2 separate regions of the Homo sapiens genome follow, and region 2 is linked to region 1. Evidence: fine-mapped expression QTL. Tissue or cell type: whole blood. Region 1 holds a variant in brackets; the other region holds the start of a gene. All regions are shown on one strand. Distances are from middle to middle. Region 1 has its middle 26 kb from the start of CLXN. Region 2 holds the start of CLXN (calaxin).

Region 1 (5,385 bases):
CAGAGCACAGATTCTTATCCAAGCAAGAAAAAGAGAGTGTGTGAGAGGCCTTCACGAGCAAGGCCTGTGGGTTTGGGCCAGGAACAGGAATTCCCCTCACAGACACTGAGTCGGCAGCCTGAGACAGGAGTGGCGGCTCCACAGAAAGCCACTCTGTTCACTGCCACCAAGGACTGCTTGCAGGGCACACACACAGAGCTGCGGAAAGAAGGGATATTTGAAAAGAGTGTTTTTTTTCCCTAGAATACACAGTGCTCTTATTTCCTTAGGGGTGCAGTAAAAACTAGCCATGAATAAATGGCCAAACGCAGCTAAGAGTCAGCAAGGATGTTTATCTCTACAGCCTGGGGCTGCTGGGATGGGTCGCTGGGACAAACTTTGAATACGTCAATAAATCATAATGAAAGATTAAAATAAGAAAGAATTTGCTAAACATGTCTGGAAGGAGGCTTTTATGCTGCTATTTTTTCCCTACCAACTGCTGCTCAGAGACTTCACTAGGCTTTTTGAATGCAACAGAAAATGTGTATGTGTTGGAGGTAGGAGGCAAAAAAAAAGGGGTGGGGAGGCAGTTCATACTTGGAGCTTTGGTTTACATGGATTTTTGAGGTCAAAGAAAATCCAGTTGCTAAATCTAAGTGCAGATGTTATATTAAAATTAAACAAACAAAAAAACAAGAACCTATCCTCAGAATATGTGAATTCTTAGCAAAAGGATCTATTGCAATACATCATTTGTTTTCTATTTCAATAAAATTTAAGAATCAGTTTTCTTTTAGAAAGCAGAAAAAAAACCATCAATCGTTTCAAAAATTATGAAATATCCTTATGAGTACAGGAACTGTTGGATAGCCGTGGGCTCTAAGAAGCCAGCAGCTATCCCAGTGCACAGGAACACATGCCCCAGGCCCTCTGTCTCCTTTATTGTGAGAGAAAAATACCCTATTTGCTTCAAGCAGGAGGTTGAGCAGAACAAGAGTGAGAGGGCTTCTCTCACTTAGGAGCCATCTTTTCCTGAAAGCTGGCCTAACCCCCCTTGAACACCCAGCATAACGTCTACCTCAGGCAGCCGGCCTCCATGGGCAACCTGGGCCTGGCTGACCTCTGAATCCAGGGGCAGCAGACAGGTAGGTGTGGTGCTGTGTCCTCCATTGAAATGGGCTGTCTCAGAATCCTAAGTTATGAGCCGAACCCGAATTGTGTCCCCTAAAAACGCACATGTTGAAGCCCTAACCCCCAGATCCTCATGCTGTGACTGTATTTGACAGAGCCTTAAAGGAGATAGTTTAGGTAAAATAACATCATTAAGGTGGGTCCTAATTCAATATAACTGGTGGGTTTGGTTTTTGTTTTTTGTTTTTTTGAGACAGAGTCTCACCCCATTGCTCAGGCTGGAGTGCAATGGTGCGATCTCTGCTCACTGCAACCTCCACCTCCCAGGTTCAAGCGATTCTCATGCCTCAGCCTCCCGAGTAGCTGGGATTACAGGCACGCACCACCACACCTGGCTAATTTTTTTTGTATTTTTATTAGAGACAGGGTTTCACCATGTTGGCCACAGTGGTCTCGAACTCCTGACTTCAGGTGATGCACTCACCTCGGCCTCCCAAAGTGCCGGGATTACAGGCATGAGCCACTGCACCTGGCCAGCTGGTGTTTTTATAAGAAGTGATGAGGAGATAAGTATACACAGAGGGAAGACCATGTGAAGACACAGGATAAGACGGCCGTCTGCAAGCCACAGTGAGAGGCCTCGGGAGAAACCAATCCTGCTGACACCTTACCCTTCAACTTCCGGCCTCCAGAACTCTGAGGAAATGCACTTCTGTTGTTTGAGCCCCTCAGTGTGCGGCGCTTTCTTATGGCAGCCCTTATAAACTAATACAGCTTCTTATGCCTCAATGACACATACATTCACGCCTTGAGCAAAAGAGGAACTCAAAGCCTGTTTGTTGGTATATCAGTTTCAATTAACCCATGGGAAGCCAGGAAAAAAGACACACAC[C/A]CCCCCAAAAAAAAATGAAAAACCAGAAAGAAAAATAAAATAGCAGGCTTAAGTTTAACAATTCAATAATTACATTAAATTTAGTTTAAGTAGTCTAAATATATGATTTAAAAAAGACAGGCAGGGCACAGCAGTCACACCTGTAATCCCAGCACTTTGAGAGGCTGAGGCAGAAAGATCACATGAGGCCATGAGTTTGAACCAGCCTGGGCAATATAGCAAGACCCCATATCTATAAAAAATTGTTAAAATTAGCCAGATGTGATGATATGCACCCACTGTTCCAGCTACTGACAAGGTTGAGGCAGGAGGATTGCTTGAGCCCAGGAGTTTCAAACTGTAATGAGCTATAGTCACTGTACTCCAGCCAGGGCTACAGAGGAAGACCCTGTCTGAAATAGTTAATTAATTAATTAAAATATATTGGCAGAGTGGATTGCAAAAACATAACCCAAGTATGTACTGCCTACAAGAAACTCACTTCAAATACGATGGTATAAGTAAATAGAAATAATAGGATGGAAAGGATATGGCACACAATCATTAATTAAAATAAATGAGGAATAGCTATATTAATATCAGATAAAGTTGACTTCAGAGCAAAGAAAATGACCAGTTACAGAGAAGTACATGACATAATGACAGAAGTGTCAAGCTACCAGGAGGCATAAAAGTTCTCAATGTGTGTATCAAACAACAGAGATGCATGTTACATGAAGCAAAATCTGATAGAACTGAAAAAAGAAATGGCAAACCCACAATTGCAGTGGGAGATTTCAACACATACCCTGCCTCAATATTTGATAGAACAACTAGACAGAAAACCACCATGAATATGGAAGAACTCAATACCATCTACCAACAAAATCTAGTCACCACACCAAGGGAGAGCATATCTTCCATCAGAAAACAAAACAAAACAAATTTAAAAGAATTGACATCATACAGCATGTCACTTACAATGGAACCAAAGTAGAAATCAATAACGGAAAATTATCTCCAAACTCTTGAAACTAATGACTACACCTTTAAATAATCCGTGGGTCAAAGAGGAAATCTCAGAAAAAGTAAAAAATACATCAAACTAAATGCAAATGAAACAACAACACGTCATAGACATAGAGTGTGTATCATGGGTCATTGAAGACTCAGAAGGATGGGTGGGTGCAAGGGGTGACAGGTGAGAAATTACCTCCTGGGTACAATGTACACTATTCAGGTGCTGGTTACACTAAAAGCCCAGACTTCACCACTACAAAATATATTCGTGTAACAAGACTGCACTTGTACCTCTTATATTTATACAAATTTTTTAAAAGAAGAAAAAAAGAAAAAATGTGAGACATAGCTAAAACAGTGCTGAGAAGGAAATTTATAGCACTAAATGCTTATATTAGAAAAGAGGGAAAATTTCAAATCAATAAGCTCCCATCTCAAGACCCTAGAAACCTAAGCACAGAGAAAGCAGAGGGAAGAAAAATAATGTAAAGGAACAGAAATCAATGAAATTAAAAACAGAACAAAAATAGAGAAAATCAATAAAGCAAAAAAAGCTTTTCTTTTGAAAATATCAACAAAATCGACAAACATTTAGTAAGATTTACAGAGAAAAAAAGAAAGGACACAAATTATCAAGTATCAGGAATGAAATAGAGAATATAACTGTAGACCCTGCAGAGAATAAAATGATAATACAGGAGTAAAATGAACAACTCTGCACAGAAAAATTTGACAACTTATATGAAATGGACAAATTCCTTGGCACAAACTACTACAACTCAACCATATGAAATATCTAATTTGAATAGCCTTATAACTAGTAAAACAATTCTATTTGTAACCAAAAGTATCCTAAAAAGGTAATCGTAGACACAGTTTCCATGGAGAATGCTACCAAACACTTAAGAATCAACAGCAGTTTCATATAATCTCCTCCAGAAAAAAGAAGGTACCAAGTCATTCCCAGGCAGAGAGAACCACTAAGTCTGAGCAAATGCCAGGATCCAAGAAGACATAGGTCCCCTGAGCCTCTCAGTTTCAGAACACACTGAGCTGAGCCACTGCTAACTGAAAGTAATCAGTGTGCGTTCAGAAAGACCAATAATAAATGTATACAATTACTATTTGTCAATTAAAAATAAAATTTTTAAAAAGACAGATGAAGAACAAGATACAGATCATCTCCAACTCATGATGATTTGATTTTTTGACCTTACAACAGGCTTATTGGGGTGGAGAATGCATTTTGACTTACAATATTTTCAACTAATGATGAGTTTATGAGACATAACCCCATCAAAATTAAAATAGGGCCCGGTAAGCATTTCAAAGTGAGTATATGCATAAAAATAACAAGAAAACAGAGTAGTCAGTGATAGGGTCTAAATAATAAATATTTTGGATTATAATACTTTTTTTAAATTTTATTATTATTATACTTTAAGTTTTAGGGTACATGTGCACAATGTGCAGGTTTGTTACATATGTATACATGTGCCATGTTGGTGTGCTGCACCCATTAACTCATCATTTAGCAATAGGTATATCTCCTAATGCTATCCCTCCCCACCCCACCCCACAACAGTCCCCGGAGTGTGATGTTCCCCTTCCTGTGTCCATGTGCTCTCATTGTTCAATTCCCACCTATGAGTGAGAACATGCAGTGTTTGGTTTTTTGTCCTTGCGATAGTTTGCTGAGAATGATGGTTTCCAGTTTCATCCATGTCCCTACAAAGGACATGATCTCATCCTTTTTCATGGCTGCATAGTATTCCATGGTGTATATGTGCCACATTTTCTTAATCCAGTCTATCGTTGTTGGACATTTGGGTTGGTTCCAAGTCTTTGCTATTGTGAATAGTGCCGCAATAAACAAACGTGTGCATGTGTCTTTATAGCAGCATGATTTTGGATTATAATACATTTTAACCAAATTTTGTGTCAGTTCTTTCAAGTAATTGCACATCTAGTAATTTGAACTGTTAGTTCACAAGAAGCTAAGGAGTAATTAATTCTACACTGTACTTAATGACATTGATTTGAATATAAGGCATATACGGAAGAACACAAAAATGTTATCTTTAATATGCTCTATGTCAGCTTCAAACCCTGCTTGTATTATGAATTTAAAGCAAGTAAGTCTTCAGATATATTACAAATGTAAATTGTAGCCAAGCTAAGGTATGTGATAAGATGGAGTGTAACGATGCATTGCAGCTATAAACACAAATAAAATTTTTGTTTGTTTTAAAAAAGATAATTCCTTGCTACCAAGGAAGGTCAAGTCTAAACATAATATTAAATGTGACAAAGTATACAAAGGAAACAAATACGCTCATACACCAATATAAGGTTATTTTTCAGACACTTGGGTTCTACTG
Region 2 (5,385 bases), 26 kb after region 1:
TTCGACCACCCAAACAACTGGTCACACATATAACTCTTATTTTTGTTATCGCTGTCTCCACAAAATAAAATTAGTAAAGTTGAATTTCTATTATGCAGGTAACTAACCTATTTCCCTTTTATTCAAGCAATTTTATAATAGATTTGTGATATACTTGGAGATCAATTCTATGATGTCATTTCCTCAACAGTTTCCAAAGGCCTTCATCATAAAAGGTCCACATTAAGGAAAACAATTTCATCAAGTCAAGGTCCAAGCTGTTTATCATGGCAACAATCCAGTGAATGCTGAGTCAAAGGGAAGATTGTTTTGCACACAAAACTAAAGGAAACATAGCATTAATAGTCACTTTAATGTACTTCTGTGTTTACAAAGTTATTCATCTTGAGGTTGCTTGGATTTTTGGAAAGTTCTATGATCATTTCATGCACAGTAAAATTTATGTCCAATACGAATTAAACACAATCCTTTATTATTCCATTATTGATTGATTTAATATGAAGTAGCCTCTTAGGCTTAATTGCCTTACTCTGAGAAAGCTCTTGGGGGAAAGCAGTCCTGTGTCTACTCAGCATAAGCAACTAAAACTACAAATAGAAACTTCAACTTGCTTTGAAATGTTATTCACTGACTCAATCAGGCCTGCAACTTGTTTCTAAAGTCTAAAAATATTAAGTTCCAAAACTTCACAAGAATGTAATGAAAGCTCTGAAGTTTACCCGTATGTTGACAAAACATACTCCAAATAAACATTGTGCTTTCCCTGAAAAAGATGATAAGACCTTATTGTAAGGTCAACTCTGCAAATCACTCTCTTAGATAAGTGAGATTCACAAAACAATGCATTTGCATAGATAGATAGAAAGATAGATAGATAGATGATAGATAGATAGATAGATAGATAGATAGATAGATAGATAGATTGGTTGATTTTTTTGGCTAAAAGAACTGCATGGAAGAAAGAACTGGAGGATAAAAGAAGTGGAAGAGGAGGAGGTGACTTACAAAGTTTGCTCAACAGGTTAAGGAGTTTTGGCCCGGCATATTTTAATTTCAACAATCTGTGATATTGCCCCTACATCTTTTTATTATTTTTTTAACTTTAAGGGAACATGGCTGATGGGCTCTAGGCCTTAAACTCGTGAAGGAATAACTAATTAGCTTACCTATAGCAAGCACCCGGTGTATGCGATCTCCCCAGGCCACCAGAAATAACCACCAATGTGCTCACCAACAGCGCAGGCCTGCTCCCCAACACAGGCCTAGTACATCAGGTGGGGAGCCCACAGCGTCTCTTAGTAATTACTGACAACCACTCTTTCGGTTCCTTGTCTCTTGAAGTGAGCAGTGCAGCAATCTCTAGGAATTAAGTATTTGCTACAGCTCTGTGATCCAACAGAAATCAATAAGGTGTCACAGGTAAGTATAATTCAAATATGTCCAGTCTTTCCCTTTTGTTCTCTATGGTCTCAGGAATTTCACTCTTCTAGACAAGGGGATATGTAGAAACACTATTTAAAAATACTACTGTTACAAACTCATAATCACCATCAATTCATATCGGGTAACTGTTGTTAGGACATTTGCTTTAGGATAACACAGTCCATGCCTTTACCAAGCACCCTTTGCTCTAGTTTCAAACAGCATCCCAATCCTTCATTCCACAAACAAATGAAACAGTAAAGAAAAACCAGAGGCCTCGACATTGGAATTATTTCATTTGGGATTATTACTCATGGTTAGTAGAATTTTTCTGCCTTCAGTCTAAAAATGCCAGTATGTGTACAATAACATAGTTTGTCATTTTCCCCTCTGAAGTTAAACGAGCAGGCACTCTGGAGAATACTGTAGATTTGGTGATCCTGGCTGAGCCACCCCTTTTTATTGCTGCCTTAGCTGAAAGAGGATATCCCCTCTGTGATCAGGAAAAGCAGAAAGTCCTCCCACCCTGAAGATGTAAGGAATATCCTTTGTCTGCCGGCACAGAACTTGTCTTTCAAATAAGTAAAGGACCAAGGTTGCTGAGATATTTTCCGGAAAAGCAAGATTGGGCTGTACCCCACACCCAAGTGGTGTTGTCAGCCCGTTTTCATTGGGGGGAATGCCTATTTAAGCAGTATAAAAATTCCTCGTGGCTTTCCTCAGATTCCACAGACAACCTCCATCTTTTGGAAGTGAGATGAGGGCAGTGGGAAAAGAAAAAAACTACAGTCACAAGCCACATAGCGCCATTTAAGTCAACATCAGACAACATTAGGACAGTGGTCCCATAAGATGTAACACTGTACTGGAACACTGCACCTTCCCCAGAGTGCTTAGCACTCTGTTTTAGCTGCCTGCAGCATTCCGCGCTGTGACCTGCTGTGCAGGGGTGCAGCCCAGAAGCAATGGGTTGTACCATACAGCCTGGCGTGCAGTAGGCAAGGCCATCTAGGTTTGTGTCGGTGCACCGTGATGTGCACACAGTGATGAAATCTCCTAGTGACCTCGGAACGCGTCCCGCTCCTTAGGCAACCCGTGGCTGTATTCCAATTTCCCCTTGCTCTCAGAAACACAACTAAAAGCTCGAAGACCTCAGGTGACAGACTGCCTCCTGTTACCTCACCAAGACTGAAAACCTAAGCAGTGGCTCCGCCCAAAGAGCAAGCTTCTAGCCCTCTGACGGGAGGCCCGGCAAGATCGTCCTCTGGACAGCACCTTGCTATTTTGTGACGCTGCTCCAGCCCCCAAGATGTCCAAGATCTTGGGCCTTCCCTTGAGGCGTGACGCTCACGACCCGAAACACCTCTCATACAGCGTGCACACCACATTTCAGATTTTAATGATTTACACTGCAATCAAGCAAAGAGGCTGCGAACTCAAAAGCCAGCAACAACTGAACATTTAAACTCCAACGTCAACAGTCAGAATACAGCCCTCAAGGCGGCCAGCTGGGACCCTGCCGGCGGCACCGCGCACCGAGAACCCAGCGCGAGCAGTCGCTGAGCCGATGGGCGGGGCCCAGCTGTAGCTTTGGCTACGTCGCGGGCAGCCTGGGAGCCAATCCGCGGCGGGCTGAGCCGTTGCCTTGGCTACACCGTCTGTTAGGGCCGCGCACGAGATCAGTAACTGAGACCTCACCGCGTTGACCCAGCACCAGGGCTCGCGGGGGTCCCGCGAGGGTCTCGGTAGCCGCGCGCCCAGAGACCCCCGCCGCGGCCCGATTCTCTGAGCGCCAGACATGAACCGCAAGAAACTGCAGAAGCTGACGGACACCTTAACCAAAAATTGCAAGCATTGTAAGTAAGAATGTAGTGCTGGACAGGCCGAGGCTCCTGGACCGAGCCTGGGTCCCACCCCGTGCTAAGGTCCGCTGTTGTGCCTGCTTCCCGCCTGCTGGGACTCTGTGGGCTACCTACCGCCCCTCCACCCCGGCCCCTTAAGCAGAAGTCAGAGAGGGAATCCCGGGGTGCCAGCTCCTTGCGTTTGATCTTAGGAACCCAGGCCTCCGCCTCTGGTGCTACCTACACTCCCACACATGCATTTACTTGCTTCTCCAACCCTCTTCTTTTACCTGATAGAAACATGTGATGTTAGCCTCAATGAGGTGTAAAATAAATGCTAAAACCAACTGGTCTCAAGAAAAGTAGCACCACCAAGGTAGACCGTGCACTCACCCTGCTTTATAGCTCGCACATACACCCGCAGGTCCAAGTTCTGGAAGCTTACCAAGAGACCCATAGGAGAAAACGGTGCTCAACTTCTCAACATCTTTCGGAGAGATGAGTTGTGTCATCTCATCTGTGCCTCAGAACAATATTTGTTTGGAAACCAGAGTTCAGCACAACTAAACACGTGGTAAAGAATGGGTTCCCAACTTTAGACTCCCACTTTCCAGTGGCCCCTGGTGTTGAAAGATAAAGGAGACTTTGCAGGTGACAAGATGAGCCCTATTTGAAGGCACCTGCTCTAATCTCGCATTTGAAAGGGTGGTCCTAGAATTTCATAGGAAACTTTGAGTTTATATTCAGACTGAAAAACATAATTGCACTTTAGCAAGGAAGCCGTGGGTATGGTTTAGATGAGGAAGATAATTTCCTGTCGAGCAAACTTAGAAGTTGTGTGTGCTAATTGCAAAACTACTGGCCACTTGAAGAAACAGAAGCAACAATCCCCCAAATAACCGAGTCGCTCAAAAAAGAAGGAATAAACATGTTGATGTAGTTTTAGAGATTGTAAGATCTAGTGCATTCTAATTATCATTAGTATCTGATTTAATACCTGGTAAGAAATGCTCTCTTAGTGGATGGTGATATAAATGAATATTATGGTGTGTGTACGCATCTTAAAATGTTTAGGAAAAAAATCCTGTAATTTAAGATATTATTATGACTACTATACTCTGATGAGGGTTTTGTTCTGTTATTGTTTTTCTTAAAACACTTTCATTTCTGGGAGAATAGGTATTCTTCTAGTAAACATCTAGTAAACATTTTTGATAAATATTCAAAAACAATGCAATAGCTGCTATACACAATACTGATTTTGTCCCTTTCCGTAAGTTTGAATTTGATTTAGTCTCTGTTCGGTAAGTTTGAATGCATTGCAGACAATCATTCTGTGAACAATCAAAAGGTGAGTGTATATTTTTAAAGGTAAGTAAAAATATGGCAGGAAAAAGTCTGCTCTTGATTTTTTTGTTTACTAAAAAATTTTCAATGAGTCTTACAAACTTAGATGATTATTAGTTAAAGTCTATAGAAATAGTTATACGTCATGGACATTATAATAATTTTAAATTTTCTTTAACGGAAGAACTTTCCCCTAAAGTTAAATTTTGTTTTAGTTGCAAGACAATAAAGCTATCAAGATTCAATGGATAAATTTTGTAGAATCAAAGAAGAGTGAAAGATCTTAAGAGAACATCTAGTTCATGCACTGTTCTACAGATATGTTCTGCAGGACACATTCACAGCATTCCAAGAAGATGAAAACCTATTCTTGAATTTTCTTGTTTCATTTAGTATTGTATTCTAGAATTTAAGAAATGTTTAGCAATAAAAGTTTTCTTATGGCTAACCTTTGATCCTTTGGGTAATAAATTAAACTAGTTTTTAAAAATTTTTATTTCAGCTGAGATGGAAAAATGGCTAACCAACATCCCCTCTGCTACCATTTTATGTACATGAACAGAGTACATCATTCTTCATGCAGGCTTTTCTTCCGCAACAACTAACAGCTCTTGCTTTTTAGGAGGTTTGTGTGTGTGTGTGTATGTGGTTACATATAACATGAAATTTACTATTTTAACCATTTTAAGTGCTTAATTTCATGGCATTAAGTACATTCACACTGTTCTGCTTGCAACACCACCATCCACCTCCGTAACTTGTTCATTGTTCCCAG

Evidence for each region. PIP is the estimated chance that this variant, and not a neighbour inherited with it, causes the effect. A credible set is the group of variants that fine-mapping cannot tell apart.
Region 2: it holds the start of CLXN, and the variant in region 1 is the best candidate, but not a certain one, in a credible set for the expression of CLXN in whole blood (TOPMed, PIP 0.61).

Annotation. Positions count from the first base shown.
Region 1 is chr8:48,758,984-48,764,368 of GRCh38, reverse strand. No RefSeq gene overlaps it. Among named protein-coding and RNA genes, the nearest start is that of CLXN, 26 kb to the right of the region's middle. The variant C/A (reference allele first, on the strand shown) is at 2,006.
Region 2 is chr8:48,732,987-48,738,371 of GRCh38, reverse strand. CLXN (calaxin) reads left to right here and starts at 3,104. Exons shown (of 6, transcript NM_024593.4): 1 at 3,104-3,278. The coding sequence starts at 3,221. RefSeq lists an enhancer at 3,025-3,699.